Linked DNA regions of Homo sapiens: region 2 is linked to region 1. Evidence: fine-mapped expression QTL. Tissue or cell type: whole blood. Region 1 holds a variant in brackets; the other region holds the start of a gene. All regions are shown on one strand. Distances are from middle to middle.

The links. PIP is the estimated chance that this variant, and not a neighbour inherited with it, causes the effect.
Region 2: it holds the start of LAMP5, and the variant in region 1 is fine-mapped to the expression of LAMP5 in whole blood (INTERVAL, PIP 0.98).

Annotation. Positions count from the first base shown.
Region 1 is chr20:9,107,370-9,115,479 of GRCh38, reverse strand. The region is part of intron 2 of PLCB4 (phospholipase C beta 4); the gene reads right to left. Among named protein-coding and RNA genes, the nearest start is that of PLCB4, 42 kb to the right of the region's middle. The variant G/C (reference allele first, on the strand shown) is at 3,229.
Region 2 is chr20:9,509,724-9,517,833 of GRCh38, reverse strand. It overlaps LAMP5 (lysosomal associated membrane protein family member 5), which reads right to left and starts at 3,244. Exons shown (of 6, transcript NM_012261.4): 1 at 2,918-3,244; 2 at 2,209-2,381; 3 at 1,703-1,834; 4 at 1,473-1,578. The coding sequence starts at 2,981. LAMP5-AS1 (LAMP5 antisense RNA 1) reads left to right here and starts at 2,836. Exons shown (of 5, transcript NR_109957.1): 1 at 2,836-3,070. RefSeq lists enhancers at 1,725-2,309, 6,628-6,677.

The DNA of each region.
Region 1 (8,110 bases):
GCACATTGTGCACATGTACCCTAAAACTTAAAGTATTAAAAAAAAAGAAGAAGAAGTTTTAAAAATCTATTCATAAAGCACTATAGTGTAGAGGTATTTTTATTATTAAATAATATATAGGGAGGGTTATATATGTGTTATACCTAGAAGCACCTCATTTAAATAAATTTTAAAATGTGTACACATTCCACCTCAGTTTCTATGAGGACCATCAGCACTGTTCTCGTTTCAATTTATTCAGGATTTACAAAATGAATAACGTAAGATTTATGGAAAATTTTAAGTAGTCTAGAGACCCACTGTTCTCAGCATAGAAACTAACCCTTAGAATAAGGTTTACTTATTAAAATAAGGAAGTAACTAGAGAAAAAGAATATAAAATAAAGTCCTTCACCTACTCAAACAAACACAAAGATCCACAAAGGATACTATTTGCAGAACTAACACCTCAGCAAGTATGACAGTAAGGGAAGGGATATCCTGGCCAATTACTCTGTGAAGTTCATAGTCATCAGGGTGGATTCATGGCCAAACACAGCAACCAAAGGCCGGTGTCACAGATCACCTACTCCAGGTAACAGAACTGTGCACAGGCCCTTAAACGTGAGGTCGGTCAAGGCCATCATCAGGAAGTGTGTTCTTTTACAGCAGTGTGCTTTGACAGGAAGAAATGTCGTTACTCAGGCATCTTAGGAAGCCATGTTAATCCTCCCCAGGTGCCATAATATGATTCCAGAAAGCTGCCTTTAATTTGGGGTTGGGGGAAGAGTGCTGACAACAACTGGCTACTGCTCTAAGCAGCTTCTCCCCTGGATGCACAAACAGAACAGAACTTGATAGTCTTCCTCCCCTGATTAATCCCACATTTGAGCCATCACTCATTACCTTGCTGAGTAGTAATTAGAAGGAAAAAGGGGAAAAGCTAGGGGTTTGGAATAAGCTTCAACATTATTAGTGTTTAACACTTCATCTTAATGCAGTGAGCTCAGACTATCATTACCCTCCCTGACACACTCAATATTCATACTCATCTCTAATCCTCTACCTAGGCTGTTTCTTTTTTTTTCTGACTTCTCCTCCAAATGATAAACAAATCAGGTCACTGCCCAGCTTAACTCAACATTGCCATCATCTTACTTTGTCTTCTCCGTTCCTAGCATCAGCACCACCCCTCTGAACACCTTATTAAGCACAGTCCTATGTCAATCCCAAATTATCTCGTTAGAAATGTGTGCCTCCAACAGGAGTAAGTCCCTCTAGGTTTTTAAGACAAAGTCTCTCTCTGTTCCCCAGGCTAGAATGCAATGGCATGATCTCAGCTCACTACAACCTCTGCCTCCCGGGTTCAAGCAATTCTCCTGCATCAGCCTCCCGAGTAGCTGGGATTACAGGCGTGCACCACCACACCCAGCTAATTTTTGTATTTTTAATAGAGACAGGGTTTCACCATGTTGGCCAGGTTGGTCTCAAACTTCTGATCTCAAGTGATCCGCCCCCCTCAGCCTCCCAAAGTGCTGGGATTACAGGCGTGAGCCACTGCGCCTGGCCAGACATCACAACTTGAGCAAAAATCACATTGTGAGCTTGATTAGGCACTCCCTTTCTACCCTGCTGCATGCAACACAACACTAGGTATATATGTCTGACTCAATTTGTTTGGCATTCTATTAATAGGGACGCCAAATGACTAGATTTCTACATTAATGCAATATTGATAATGACTTGGGGACACTGAAAATTGTTCAGAACCAAATGAAAGTTTAATTATGTTTGGCATTATTTTAGCAATTTAGTATATTAGATTATTTAGCAATTTAGCAATCTGGGTTATTAAAACACAAATAAAATTTAGCATTTTAACAAGTTTGGTTATTAGAAAAGTAATACTCCACAAAGGTAATTAAAGTGTGTCTCGTAATATGTGATCTTCCCCAGTACACCAATTCCCTGTATTTCCTGACCAAGATAAAAGCAGTTATTCGGATTTTCCCACCTATAACATATCTGAAAGATATAATAAAATAACACTTTCCATGGAAGACAACAAGCAACCTTAGAATGTAGACTACACATCCCGCGGGCACTTCTGCACAATCAGAATGTGAAGTTCCCTTTCCCAATCACAGTGAGGTTCTCAAAGAATGTTCTCTTGGAGAACTGCCAGTGTTTTGTGCTGCTATCTGAGGAAGCATTCTTGGAGGTGCCCATGAGCTAAAGCAGCAAAGGGCTCCGACTCTAAAACATTTCAAGCATTTTAATTTTTATTACAATTTAAACCATGTAAGCACAACCCTCAGAAAAAGAAAAACTCAATTAACAAGCTTTACTTTAAAGAGTCCATTTTTCTTCTAAGTATAAGCTGTGGGATGGCACCTTGCACACACACTCACATAAATTGATGTCAAGGCTCACAGGACCGCCATTCCTTCACCTCCTAGACTGCTGCATTTCAAAACTTATAATGTCTCCCTTTAGCTGCTTTAGGGACTTGGCATGAGATTTTTCAGCAGTCAGTTCCTTCAGCAAGGCCTGCTTTTGTGGAAAGGGTAAAATTTTATACGTACCAATTTGAGAAGCTGAATTTTTTTTTAAAAAGGGCAAGAGGAAATTGTTATAATTATAGAGACAGCTTTTGCATGCAAAATCAGTTTTCCTTGGGGAAATCTGCATACTCTCTATAAAGAATCCCCAGGCCAAAAGTACACATTATGCTTTTCAGCTCCAGTCTTTTTCAAAGCCATGCACTTGCCCAGGAATTGCATAAAGGGACAGTCTATGAATATGCTCCAGGCCTAGCCCAGATAAGCTGTTTATAAAACAAAAGACTTTACAAAGTTTTTTATAATATTTTAAAGACATATGGTATGCCTGAGGAACTGACCATTATCAATCAGTGTGAGACAATCAATAAAGAGTAGGGTATTTGGGCCAGGCACAGTGGCTCATACCTGTAATCCCAGCACTTTGGGAGGTCGAAGTGGGCAGATCACTTGAGGTCAGGAGTTTGAGACCTGCCTGGCCAACATGGTGAAACCCCATCTCTACAAAAATACAAAAATTAGCCAGGCATGGTGGCCCGTGCCTGTAATCCCAGCTACTTGGGAGGCTGAGGCAGGAGAACCACTTGAACCCAGGAGGCAGAGGTTGCAGTGAGCTGAGATCATCCACTGTACTGCGGCCTGGGCAACAGAGCAAGACTCTATCTCAAAAAAAAAAAAAAAAAGAGTA[G/C]GGTATTTGTTTCAACAGGTCTCCAAAACGTATCTAAACACTGTTCACAAAGATAATCACTGTAAAAGGCCTTCTCTTCAGATTCTTAACACTTCCAACTACATAATAAAAATTGGTCACAGTTGTTATGAAATGCTAAGAGTTAAGGATATTTTTGTGATAATGAAAGTAAAGCACAGGTAAAGGGACTATCCAAAATAAAGATCCATTTTTTTAATTTGGTCTAAATGTAAGGCATATTTGTCTTTGCTTTTAATTTTAGAAAAATTTTAGGTAATGAGCCTTGAAAAAAGGTGATAGTAATACTTCCACTAGTGGACTTTAAGACACATTAAATACATACTTCTATATACTTCATAGTGGAAAAAATACTTTGAGAAGGCAATATCCCATTTTAAATCAAAGTAATTATTTCTGTATGGAAGAAAATCCCTATGTTTTATGAGAGTTACTTGGAGCAGGCCATTCGTCTCAAAGAGGCTATTTTTATAATACAATAAATAAAATATTCTTAAATGAACTGCCCATCAATGGGAGAAAATTATCCATTTGTGTTAAAAGAAGTCTATTTTTGTCAGGTCTTTCCAAAGCAAACAAATTAGCAGTGGCTTTGGGAACTGTGAATCCACAGCCTCAACAGCAGTTGTCCAAAATTAAAGGTTTGTCAGAATGGGTGGGTGGAAGATGGAAACATTTCAAATGAGTATAAACATTTTATAACCCAGACAGAACCTTTCAAGAGTATCCCCACAGACTGAAATGATCTGTCACCTGGGCTAGGCCCCAGCTTCATAAATGGAACTTTCATAAATGGAATATTTTCAAAAATAACAATGAGAGAAAGCAACTCTTTGAAAAACAGATTTAAAGTAGAAAACATTCATAATATATTAAGTAGGAAAAGGAGGTTACAAAAGCATGAGATCTCAATTTCGTAAAACAAACAAAAACCAAATAAGATCCACACTGCCATCTGAAGAACACCACATTACAACATTAGTGGGTGCAGGGCCAAAGCCAGTTCTCTGTCCAATAACTTCCAGGCTTTGCCCAATGTACCTTCCCAAGTAGAGAAGAGTCATAGAGCCCTTTCAGGAAGCTCATCCCTGAGGGGGGTGTCTGTGACAAATCTAAGTCTAACATCGTTCAATCTGGCATTTTCCCAAACGTATATGACATGGAAAGTTTCCCAATGTCCCCAGTGACCCAGAACACCTATTAACATTCTTAGCAGCTCACCTTGGAAACAGTTTGAATAATAAATTGAATACCTGCTTAATGAATACAAGTAGTCAAAAAAATTGATGAAAGACCAAAAAGAACAACAGTACAATATCAAAAGTGGTGATTTGTGGGTTGTAGGATTTTGGATTATATTAATTTTCCAAATTTTCTATAACAAACATATTACCTTCATGATTATGAAAAAAAATACAGTATTTTACGATGCCTAAAGGGCTACACTGTTCATCTTCCTCTAAACTATTCATTGGTGAAGAGGACATTTGGTACTTCAAATGCCAACACACTAAGTTGGAGAAAAGGAGAAAGATCTGGCAATCTGTAGATTGCCACATGTAGACCATCTATAAAAGGCCAGCTATAAAAGAAACGTAGTCAGCTTAAATACTGTTCTCAGATTTCTGGTGTCCTATGAAAATAAATGAAGCAAGGAGTCCAGCCCTGGCAAAAGATGAAGGAGAACCTCAGCCTCACTAATTTCCTGTTTATTCTCTCAGATGCCAACCATTACACAGCAGCCTTTGGGAGAAATGTAAAATGTGTAGAGATAATCTAAACACTGTTTAGTCTTTTTATTTCCCCCACAAAAGACAGTGTAAATAGAGGAGAAATGATAGCTTACAAGACATTTTTATGAATCTGAGACAATAATGTATATGTCCATTGAAAGATGTTTAAATCCTATGTTTTAAAGATTCATATTTCATTGAAATAAATGCTAATCAGTGTAAGTTGTTATTTTCCATCAAAAATATATTTTTGGCATTTCTTCTTCAACTTTAATTTTTATTATATGTTTTAAAAAAAAAACAATTCCAGACAATATGGCTGAAAGGCTATGTTAGCCTTGACCTGTGCATTCATTTTCTATGCGGAGTTTCAAAACGTTCTACAAATTAACACTTTGCAAAAAATAGTTGAGTACTGTTTAGTAAAATACCCATTGCTTAATAATAATAATTTTAAAAAACTCTACTAACCTTCTCTGTGGGAACTTGTCCATAAACTTGAATAACAGATTCACAGAACATCAGGGCTAGAAGAAAGCTAAACTGGGCCTCCATACCCTTGACTCCCAATACTGAGGCCTGAATTGGTTAAGTGCCTCCCTCCAGGTCACACAGCTACTTAGGGACAACACAAAGCCAGATGACAATTTCCAGAAGACTGAGATTTTGAAGCTGTAACTGAAAACTCCCTGAGTTAATTAAGACAATGACTGCAGTTCAGTCCTGGCAAGAAAAAAAGGATAATATTTATGTGAGAACGAACTTAGTCCATCTGTGGCTGGCACACAAATCTTTCCCTTCACTATATTAGGCTTTCACTTTAACTTGTTCTGCCTGTCTTCCAAACAATTTTTGACTGATATCAGAAAACAAAAATCCTCCTGTTATTTCATGAGCCCAGCTTTTATAATTTGATAAGCACTAGAATATGTGTATTGTAGGTAAGTTGCAGAGGGGTGGTGGTAGGGAGTAGGGGAAAGGTTTATTAAATCAAGAAGCTATCATTTTAGGCCATTACGAAAAAAAAAAAAGCAATCATTTTATTTATTTCCCACACTCATGCATTACAATCCCACATGAATTGCCTACCAGTGAAAATTGTGAGATTCTCCTTCTCAAATAGGGAGACTGCTAAAATTCTATTTTAAAGTTTTATTGATATTTTTATTCATAATTTCCAGAGAAAGGACCAGAAGTGTGAGTTGGTTGTTTATTTTTGTTTTCTTTTGTTTTAATCAAATCAACTGCCTAAAGAAGAAACTGAAACTCCAGCACAATTCTGGTACTCTTATAGCCACACCATTTTATAAATGTTCAATACTTTAGACCCAGGGATACAAATTCACATCTCTGCTCTGAAGATCGTGCTATATTGTTTAAGTATCAGGGAAAGTATTCATCTATGAAAAATGTATACATTTTCAAGTCTATTCAGGCTAAAGTTAGTGTTAAGAGCAGCTAACACTTTTTTTTGGTGGGGGGCACCTTACATTTCTGGGACTCAATAAAGTTTACCAGGCACCTGGTTTTTCCTATGCAACCTACTTCAACTACCCCTTTCTCCTCTCTCTCTTTCTCTCTCTCTCTCTCTCTCTCTCTCTTGTTTTCTCTCTTCCTCTCTCTCTCATCACTCTGTATCTCTCTCCTGCAATTGGCTTTGCTTTCTCACTAGGCTTTTCCCCCATGTTATTCCAAGTTTGGGCAGCTGCACCTGGATCAACCAGCTTATATTTAAATTAAACTATCTGACAGGACATGTAAAATTGTCTTTCAGTAATTTTAATTCATTTTTCTTTCTTTTTTGGCTGCTATATCCAATTTTAATGGTAGGGAATATATTTGGCATTCTTGAAAAAAAAAAAGAAGATCTTGTTCCTTTTGAATTCTTAATAATAATTAGTATTATCATCATCATCATTTCCATGCTTCACAATTCATACCTCAGCAAGGAATTCAAGCTGACATGTTGTGCTGATCCAACTTTTGCACCAGCCTCCTGTTCAGTCAAATTTCAGTCCTCATCTTCTTTGACAGCCCCTCTGATTAATCCTCCCTCCTTGAAACACTCAGCAGGTGGATTCTAAGACGCCATATGCCCTTGGTTTTCCTCCTACTTCATTAGCTCACTTTATCCCTGATCTCTAACACTGATTCTTCCCTATCTCCCCACCCTCTAAGTGCCCTTAGACTCAGTCCTCTGAGTCTTGTCTTTGCTTCTTGTCCACATTCACTTTTCTAGTGACTTCATCCAGACTCACAACTCCCACATTTACACATCTTCAGCCTAGTCCCATCTGAATTCCAGACTCTTAATATCCAACTAACTCCTGGTTCTGTCTTCATTTTGGACACCTAATGGGAATCATGATTTTACATATCCAAAACCAACTCCTGATCTTCTCCATTCAAACCTCTCATAATGCAGTCTTCCCCATTCTAGCAAATAGCACTTCCATCTTTTCAATTGCCCAGGCACAAAACCTTGGAATCCCCTTCACCACCTCTTCCTTCCTCATACCTTACGTGGAATCCATGATCAAATCCTACTGACTCTATCTTCAAAAGAGATCGAGAATCTCACCTCTTCAAACCACCTCCATCCCTCCAAACCTCGTTAAAATCAATATCCCCCAATCTCCCTTGATTACACAGGAACATAACCTCCTGATTCTCCTTCTTCTGGACGTGCTCCCTCACAGTGTACTCTGAACTCAGCAGCCAACGTGAGTCTTCTCAAAAGTAACATCCCAGCACTCTTGGGTCCCAATTCTCCAAAGGCTCCCTATTCCATTTACAGCAGGAGTCGAAGTCCACACAGAAGACTATAAGACCCTCCTCCCTACGCCACCCTCCTGCCCAATCTCCCAGCACTCTCCTCATGTTCAATCCGGGGCTTCCTTGCTCTTCTTCAGAAACAGCAGGCTCACCTCTGCCTTATGGCATTGGCATTTGCTACCTCCCACCCCCAAAAGCCTGAGGAGGTCGCCCCCCACAGATGACATGTAATCCTTCCTTAGCAACTTAGGGCCTTGACTCAAAGACCACCATCTCAGGCCGGGGTGGGTAGGCTTCCCTGTTAATCTTTTCTAAAATGACAACACACCCTCTGCTCCCTATTCCCCCTTTTCTCT
Region 2 (8,110 bases), 400 kb before region 1:
ATTAATTTGGAACTCCTTTTTTGAAGAGGAGAATGATACTTAAAAACCCAACCCTTGTTACTGTATAAAACCTAGGCTGGGCATGGTGGATCCTGCCTGTAATCCCAAAACTTTCAGAGGTCAAGGTGGGAGGATCGTTTGAGCCCAAGATTTCTAGACCAGCCTGAGCAACATAGTGAGACTCTGTCTCTACAAATACACACACACACACATACATTTACAAAATTAGTCTGGCATGGTGACACATGCCTGTAGTCCCAGCTACTGGGGAAACTGGGGTGGGAGAATCTCTTGAGCCCAGTAGCTTACTCCAGGCTGTGGTGATCTATGGTGGTGCCACTGCCCTCCACCCTGGTGGACAGAGTGAGACCGCACTTCAAAAAAGAAAAAAAAAATCCCTAATAATGGAGATTCCAAAGACACAGAAGGAACAGTGACTTGGTTTTCCACATTTCACACGGGCCTGGCAAAGAATAAAACATCTTCCTCAACAAAGCCGGACAGATTGCTGGTCCTCTGGATGCTTGTCCTTACACACATACATCCCCTCTGAAGGTCTGCCTCCCATTGCTCTTTTTCTGACCTAAGTTTGATTTTTCCTTTTTCCTTTTTGGTCTAATTTAACTGGGGGACATCTTGCATCTAAACTTTGATGAAAAAGAAAAAATCCTCCTTTTACTGTGATAACAAAAAGGGGTGAAAAGGGAAAGATGACACATGTATTTTTATGTATTCAATAAAAATCCTTTCCCAACTCAGGTGCCTGGGTGATGAAGGGCCTCATTATGAGTGAAATAGACAACTTATAAAGAATAAAATAAATTTAAATGTGGTCTTTGACGGTGTCTGCAGATAGGAATATTGTTATTTGGGGGATGAACGCTCGTTTTGCCGAGGAGGATCTGGCTGAGTTGTCGGAGGGATGGGCCAGAAACGCTAGTAAATTATACATGGTGCAGAATCCACTGTCAGGTAGCTGCAGTCGATGACTGAATATCCCGTGCGAGCCATGCTGCCATGCGCAAAAAGACACTGAAGGCCATCACATCCTGACTGAAAAGGAAAGTCGCACTGCCCCCTTGCAGTTTTAGCGCATAAGAAACAAAACCAGGATGCGGAAGAAAATTAAAATGCAGCTTTGCCCTTCTCCGTGGTCCTTCAAAGGCCAAATCATAAGAGGTCGTTTTGAAGCACCAGGGAACGACAGGCCTTCAAGGGACTTCTTATCTAGGATCAGGCCACGGGTGACGTTTGGGTCCCCACGCCTGCGGTTCCTGGCGGATCTACAAGGCCTGAGACCCAGAAGACTCATGGGCGCTCCCGCCTCTTCCGCCCTAAAGAGCAAGCCGAGGGAAGACTTGGCCTGGGACCTCAAAGCGTGGGACGGTTTCCAAAACCTTGAGGAATTCTCTCTCCAAGCCTGTTCTGCGAGTTCCCAGGCTCCCTCCCCAGCCATGCCAGCCTCCACTCACCACTGACTGCGTCTTTGAAGTGGGTTTTCTCCGAGGAGTCGTAGACAAACTGCACTTTGCTCAGCCTCCAAGTCGCCTCAGGTCCCTTGGACATGTTGTGGCTTTCCTGTTGAGCCGGGGAGGTGCGCTTCAATCGTCCCCGCAGCGTCTGGGTTCTTAAACCTAGGGGCCGCCACTTCCCACACCCACGCGGAGCCTGCGGCCCCTCTGCCCGCTGGGCTCGGAGTTACCTTTACAAAGAGCATTTTGAGTGCATATGCGCGATCCACCCAGAACACTTGCAGCTCCGACTGGCTGTGGCCACAGCGGCCCTTCACCTCAGCTCCCCGGGTCAATGCGATATCGGCCTGTTCTGTGATCAGCTGGGAACACAGACGCCCCGCGCCCCCTCAGCTCGCCCGGCCCCGGGGCGGGGGCTGTAAAGGGCGGCGCGTCCAAACTCTGGGTTGCACGCTTGGGCGCTCCTTTGCGCGCGCGCATCCCAGGTTCCGGGAACATGCGGTTAGATGCTCTACGTGCAGCCCCGATAGGGAAGCGGAGAGAAGGGGGTTTACTTTCAAAGCAGGCAGGGGAACAGAAGGCATTACAAGCTGGAATCCCCATGCAGCATTCGGGAGCAGCCTGCCGGGGTGTGGGAAAGAAGGCGGGCAACCCAGGTCTTCGAAGAGCCTTGAGGAAGGGTGCCCTTCGCCCTGGAGCCCTAGGAGCAAGCTGAGGGGGGGGAAAGATTCCTTACATCTACGTAGTTGCTGGCCCACACATCATAAGGTACAATAAATTTGGCTGCAAACTCTGCCATGAGACACGTCGTCCCATTTTCCCGCACCACAAATATATCTTTTTCAGGGTTAGTGGAAAGGCCTGAGAGATTTTCCACTTCTTGTTCTGCCATGATTTGAGCCATTGTATCTGCGGAACAAACAAAACAATTCCATCAGTTCAGGGCTCAGCCCACGCGTCTCGGGCGCTAGGGTGGGGAGACAGTGCTCTGCAGGCTTTGGAGTGACAAAGTTCTCTGCCAGCAGCTGTGCGCTCTACGAGCCGTTTCTCTAACCCGGGTCTAACAAGCCTCATTCCTTCGCTGTTAATTTATAATGAAAATACAGTTAAAAAAATTAAAAATCCTGACTTTGTTTGTAATATAGCTGGCTGTTTTCTACATCTTGGGATTTTAAAGTAAATATTTCTTGCCAATGCTCTGACCTCACGAAGCTGGCCTGTCTAGGCTCTGTCTGGAATATGCCACAGAGGTGTATGGCTCTCAGGGGAATTCCCTGCCACCGGCGAGGAAGGCCCTCCCTCCTCCCCTAAAAGAAAAAAAGAAAAAACACCGCAAAACATTAAGGGCCATATTTTTTATCTCAAGCTAATTGACTTTACTTTGCCGGCTCTGTTCTCTGCAAAGAGTGCCCGTCCTCTCTCCCAGTCGCCAAATCGCTACTCACGGAACAACATCAGGAGAACTCGAAGTCTGTCGATGCTGGGGACCCCTCTTCCTTGGAGATCCATACTCGCAGTGCCCCGAATGAGGCCGGCTGTGCTGCTGCAGAGGCCGCCAGAGAGGGAATCCCTCAAAGTCGCCGCTGGAGTGGGCCGGGGTGAGCGAGAGGCGGGGGACAGAGAAGGGGGAGGGAGGGAGCGCGTATTCTGTGAGCGCCTAGCTAGGACTCGGTGTCGAGCGCGGCACCGACAGCTGCTGGCAGAGCAAATCGGCTCACTGCGGAGGAAAGGACCGCACGGCGGTCCACGGCTGCGAGTGCTGAAAGCAATCCGATTGTGTGGCAGGAGTGGCTGTGGCTTGGCTTGTGCGGAGGGCCAATGAGATCTGGGGGGACTAAACTTCTCCCTGGGTCTGTTTCCTGTTCTGCAACTGCATCCGCAAAGATGAGTCTGTTCTGAGAAACTTAATACCACCCTCAGCCTTATTAAATCTCCTTACCAGGTACAGTTATTAAGTGGTGTAGATACCTTATCACTGGAGTACTGTCTTCTGAAAACGCATCTGGTTCCCGAAAGAAAACGGTGGAGCAAAAATTGTTGCTGATTCGGGGGAGGAGGGCTATGCAGGAATAGAGAAGGGAAAATGCTATGGCAACAGTTTCCTGAATTTGGAGACATCCCCTTCTCTCCCCTGCTCTCAATGAGCTCATGGGTTTAAAGTTAAATTGACGCCTCCTCGAACGAGGCCATCAGACAATGCAGTAGCTCCATGTGGGCTTATTTTCCTGTGAATTTTGCTCCCGGGTGCATGAGGACTCTGAACTCTGGGGTCACCTACCCTCCCGCATTATACTGTGACCACTCTGCCAAAAAGGGATGCAAGCAAATCAGAAGTTTTTGAGAGTTATCTAGTGTCTCCTAGGACAGAAATTTTAGAATTATGCCCTAAGTAATGTCACATAGTTATGTAAGAAAAACACACACTGATATTACTCTAAAGCCTGTAGTGGAACAGAAGAACAAATACTACTGGGCTAATTCCTGTATTTACATATTTGGTAGCTTGCTTATTTTTTATTTTTGCTCTGTAAATCAGAATACAGCTTTCAAAAATACACATGCAGTCCTCATCAATTGTAGTGATGTCCAAATATTTTATTCCTTAGAAGATATTTCATAATGCAAATAAATGTTGCATCAGTAATATAATGTTATAAAACAATGTCATATTAAAGGGAAAATTGCAAAGTATTTCACCTGCATTATCTAATTTGATTCTCCCCAATCTTAGAGGGTAGGCAAGGAAAGATATGAGTTACTGTGGTTTTACATACCCCAAAACTGAGGCTCAAATAAATTAAATGACCTTCCCAAATGTCACATGGTCAGTTAGAATTAAAATACAAAAATCACATGCTTTAACTCTGTGAGATTATCTTCATTTCTCCTTATATAATATTTTTACTCCATATTTTGACTTCCATAAAAATCTATATTCAATATCAAATAATAATCTGAAATCTGAAATCTCTATCATTAATTCACATTCTTCAAATTTATAGAATGCTGTTTTAAGTATAATCACATTCTGACATATCTGCCACAAAGTATCTATATAATGTTTTTGGCTTTCAAACATATTCCTATATCAATCATTAGATCACTAGCAATTCAAAGTATAAAGTAATATTAAAATTGACATTATATTTTGACATCTTGACTTTTATGTTTGTAGTTCAGTATTTCATCCAAACATTTCTCAAGAACTTTACAAAGATGATTATATATAGAAGAATTGATGCAAATTTTACAGAACTTAACAGAAATGATTTTATACAGAAGATTGATAAAACGTCAGTTCTCATCAGTTGAAAGTGGAAGAGATAACATTTGTATGTGTTACATTTTTTCATGTTAGCAATTATTATTAAACACTTATTTTCCTGTAGTACTGTAAAACTGGAAAACAATGAGACATGTAATAAAGTATTTATTCTCTCTCTCTCTCTCTCTCTCCAGTATTTTATGAGGACAGAAATGAGTAGATTTCAGTCCAGGATTCACTACTTATTATTTTTGTGACCTTCTGAAGATTTTATTTGTTCTCATCTGAAAAATTGGGAAAATAACTCAGGGGATGGCTAGTTAAACCAAATGGGCCAATGAGTATAAATAAACAAAGTACAAATAGATCCATAAACATTAACCGAATACTTACTACTTCCAGTATGCTTGATGCTTTGAAAACCAAAAGATATTTATCATTACACAAGTAGGAGAGACACCTATAAAAGATTTTGACAATTTCTCTTGCAGTATGTTATTGCAGATATCTTCACTATATAAGTTGTTAAAAGATCAACTGAATTAATTCATGATTATCTGCCTTAATAATAAAAGATTAGGTGAGTAGTAGCATTGGTCATTGATCTTAAAATGTAGTAGTTGATTTACAAATGAGATGGTTGTTCCTTTGAAAATTATACCTGATATAAATGATCTCTTTGTTGACACTGGAGAGTGTACCCTAGAGTACTCAAATGGGTTGAAAGAAGAAAGAAAGCAATTTTAACTCTTTTTTTCTGGGGGGATTATTTTCAAAGCACAATCAGTTTAATGACTTTTTTAATATTTAATCTTAAACATGGCTAACAAATGCCCATTAATTTATCATCTTATCCACTGTGATACATTGCAATAGGAGTTAGGTCATTATACCTACAACTTTCACCTACATTAATTAAATATCTTTCTAATCATTCTGGAAAAAAACTCTTTGGTTCTCTAAAATAAGCAAAGAAGTGATCAAGGAGCAAAATTTGCCATTAAATTGCATTTTAATATATTAACAATGTTCCCCAGAATTTGCTCTACTTTTCATTTCTCAAGTCTAAAAGATGGTAGGAGAAATTGACATAAATATGTACACCTGTGTGGGTGGTAACTGTGTCAATTTTTATTATTGCTGCTGGTGGTCAGTAGAAACTGTTAGGGTGCAGTGTGACCTAAACACACTGGATTTGGGATCTCCTCTAGATCTTCTAGGTCCTTCAAAGGCTGTTTTTCAATTCATATGGATACTTACTGAATTAGCCTTTATGAATCTCATGCCATTGAGTGGTTGCTGTTTTATAAAAGGGCAAGAAGAGGCCCTTGCATAGAACTTTCAATTTGGATGAGAAGAATTTACATAAAGATTCCAGTTAGCCTAGCACAGTGTCTGCATAAATGTTCAGGGGGAAAAAAAAGTAAGACAGGCATCCCAGGTGGGAGAGTGGTTGAAATTGATGAAAAAAGGTCTCTTGGAGAAGGTGAGTCTTGAAAGAAGTTGACAAACTGATGTAGGGTGGAAGGAAGGATACGGATGGAAGAAATATCTATTGAATAGGGAATCAATGCAAAGATGTAACTCTTCATCCATCCATATTTATCCATTTGCAATAAAAAGCAAATTAGGCCGTAAATCAACAATGCCTTATGTACTATAGAACCCCTATTTCATTTCCGTATTTGATAATTTACCCACATATGGCATATGCAAAAGAATGGCCTATGCAAAATTTATTCTAAATAAAATTAAACTTTTTAAGTTGTTAGGGGCATCTTTTCATACTTGGTTGTGCAAGCAATTGACTTGTATTTGTAGAATCAAGAAACAAAACTATGAAAATTAGTGAACAATACTAATAAGAAAAGCGTATTTATAGCTTCAAAAGGAAAAGGCTGGGCTTTGTTGCAGCTGAAATTTGGTTTATTGAGGTTTCAGTTCACTTTACAGTAAAGTGTAAAAATGTACTCCTTGCTCTGTTGTTCCCACAGCCACCAAGCCATCCCTCTGCAACCCACACACAGACAACGGACGCACACCCGAATAACAGAAGCAGAAATAATTTAAACAAACAAGATGCATGCAGCTGTTAAGCCAGACTTTCTACTCACCAAAACTTTTCTTGTGTTCAGCTTATCATAGAACAATTAATTCATTTAGTCATTGCCTTCAAAGACCTTCGCAACCCTTTCTAGGATCTAAACTCTTGTGGGACAGAAACTGAAAAATAAATGTATGCACAAGAATTATTTTTCAGTTTCTATCCCACAAGGGTTTAGATCCAGAGCAAAGAGTACAAAAATAAGTGTGCGCATGAGCAATGTATGCACAAGAATATTTCGCACATACATTGCTAAGCCCTAGAATATTTGGAAAGAATCAGAAAATTGAGTTTAGGCTCCAATGCACTCAGTCTGCATGCCCTTGGTGTAATTTTCCTCATCCTAGTGCTTCTTTGGTGTCTCCTGCATCTACTCTAATGAAACAATGGTTATTTCTGCAATAACGGTAACCAGTGGAGGAAACAAACCACCAGAATAACGGCCTTTTTATTGGCTATGTTCACACTAAGTCCTGAAAAAAATACCATTTATGAGTTCATTTAGAAGAATTGCCTTCAGCATGGGGCAATATAGAGAACTGCATCCTTATAGCAAACCCTAAATAAGTAAATGGTGAGGGGCCAGGTAATCATTCCTCAAAATTTCAGTAGCAAATAAATCATTTTTGTCTTTTGAATCCGTGATTAGTTAACTGTTCTGGTCAGTCTTACATTTTTGGTCAGTGATACACAACTCACTCTGCTATCTCGGGAGGGAGGAAAACCTTGTTAACTTCTGGGCAGGGCACCTTTCTGTAAGGTTGAATTAAAACTCATTTGAGGATTTTAAAAAATCTTTAATGAGTCTGTTCTCCAAGAAATGACATCTGTCACAATAGGCCTAAGGTTAGACTAGCTGTGTCTCATTTAACATATTTTGCTACCTGAATTCTGTGATAATGCAGTACCCTCAAAATCTCTGAGATGGCACAGGAGTCCATTGTTCCCTTGGTTACTACTCTCTCTCTCTCTCTGTTTTTTTTTTGTTTTGTTTTGTTTTGTTTTTTTTTGAGAGTCTCACTCTGTCGCCCAGGCTAGAGTGCAGCGGTGCAATCTTCGCTCACTGCAACATCTGCCTCCTGGATTCAAGCTATTCTCCTGCCTCAGCCTCCTGAGTAGCTGGAACTACAGGCATTTGCCACCATGCCCGGCTAATTTTTTGTATTTTTAGTAGAGACAGGGTTTCACTATTTTGGCCAGGCTGGTCTCGAACTCCTGACCTCGTGATCCGCCTGCCTCGGCCTCCCAAAGTGCTGGGATTACAGGTGT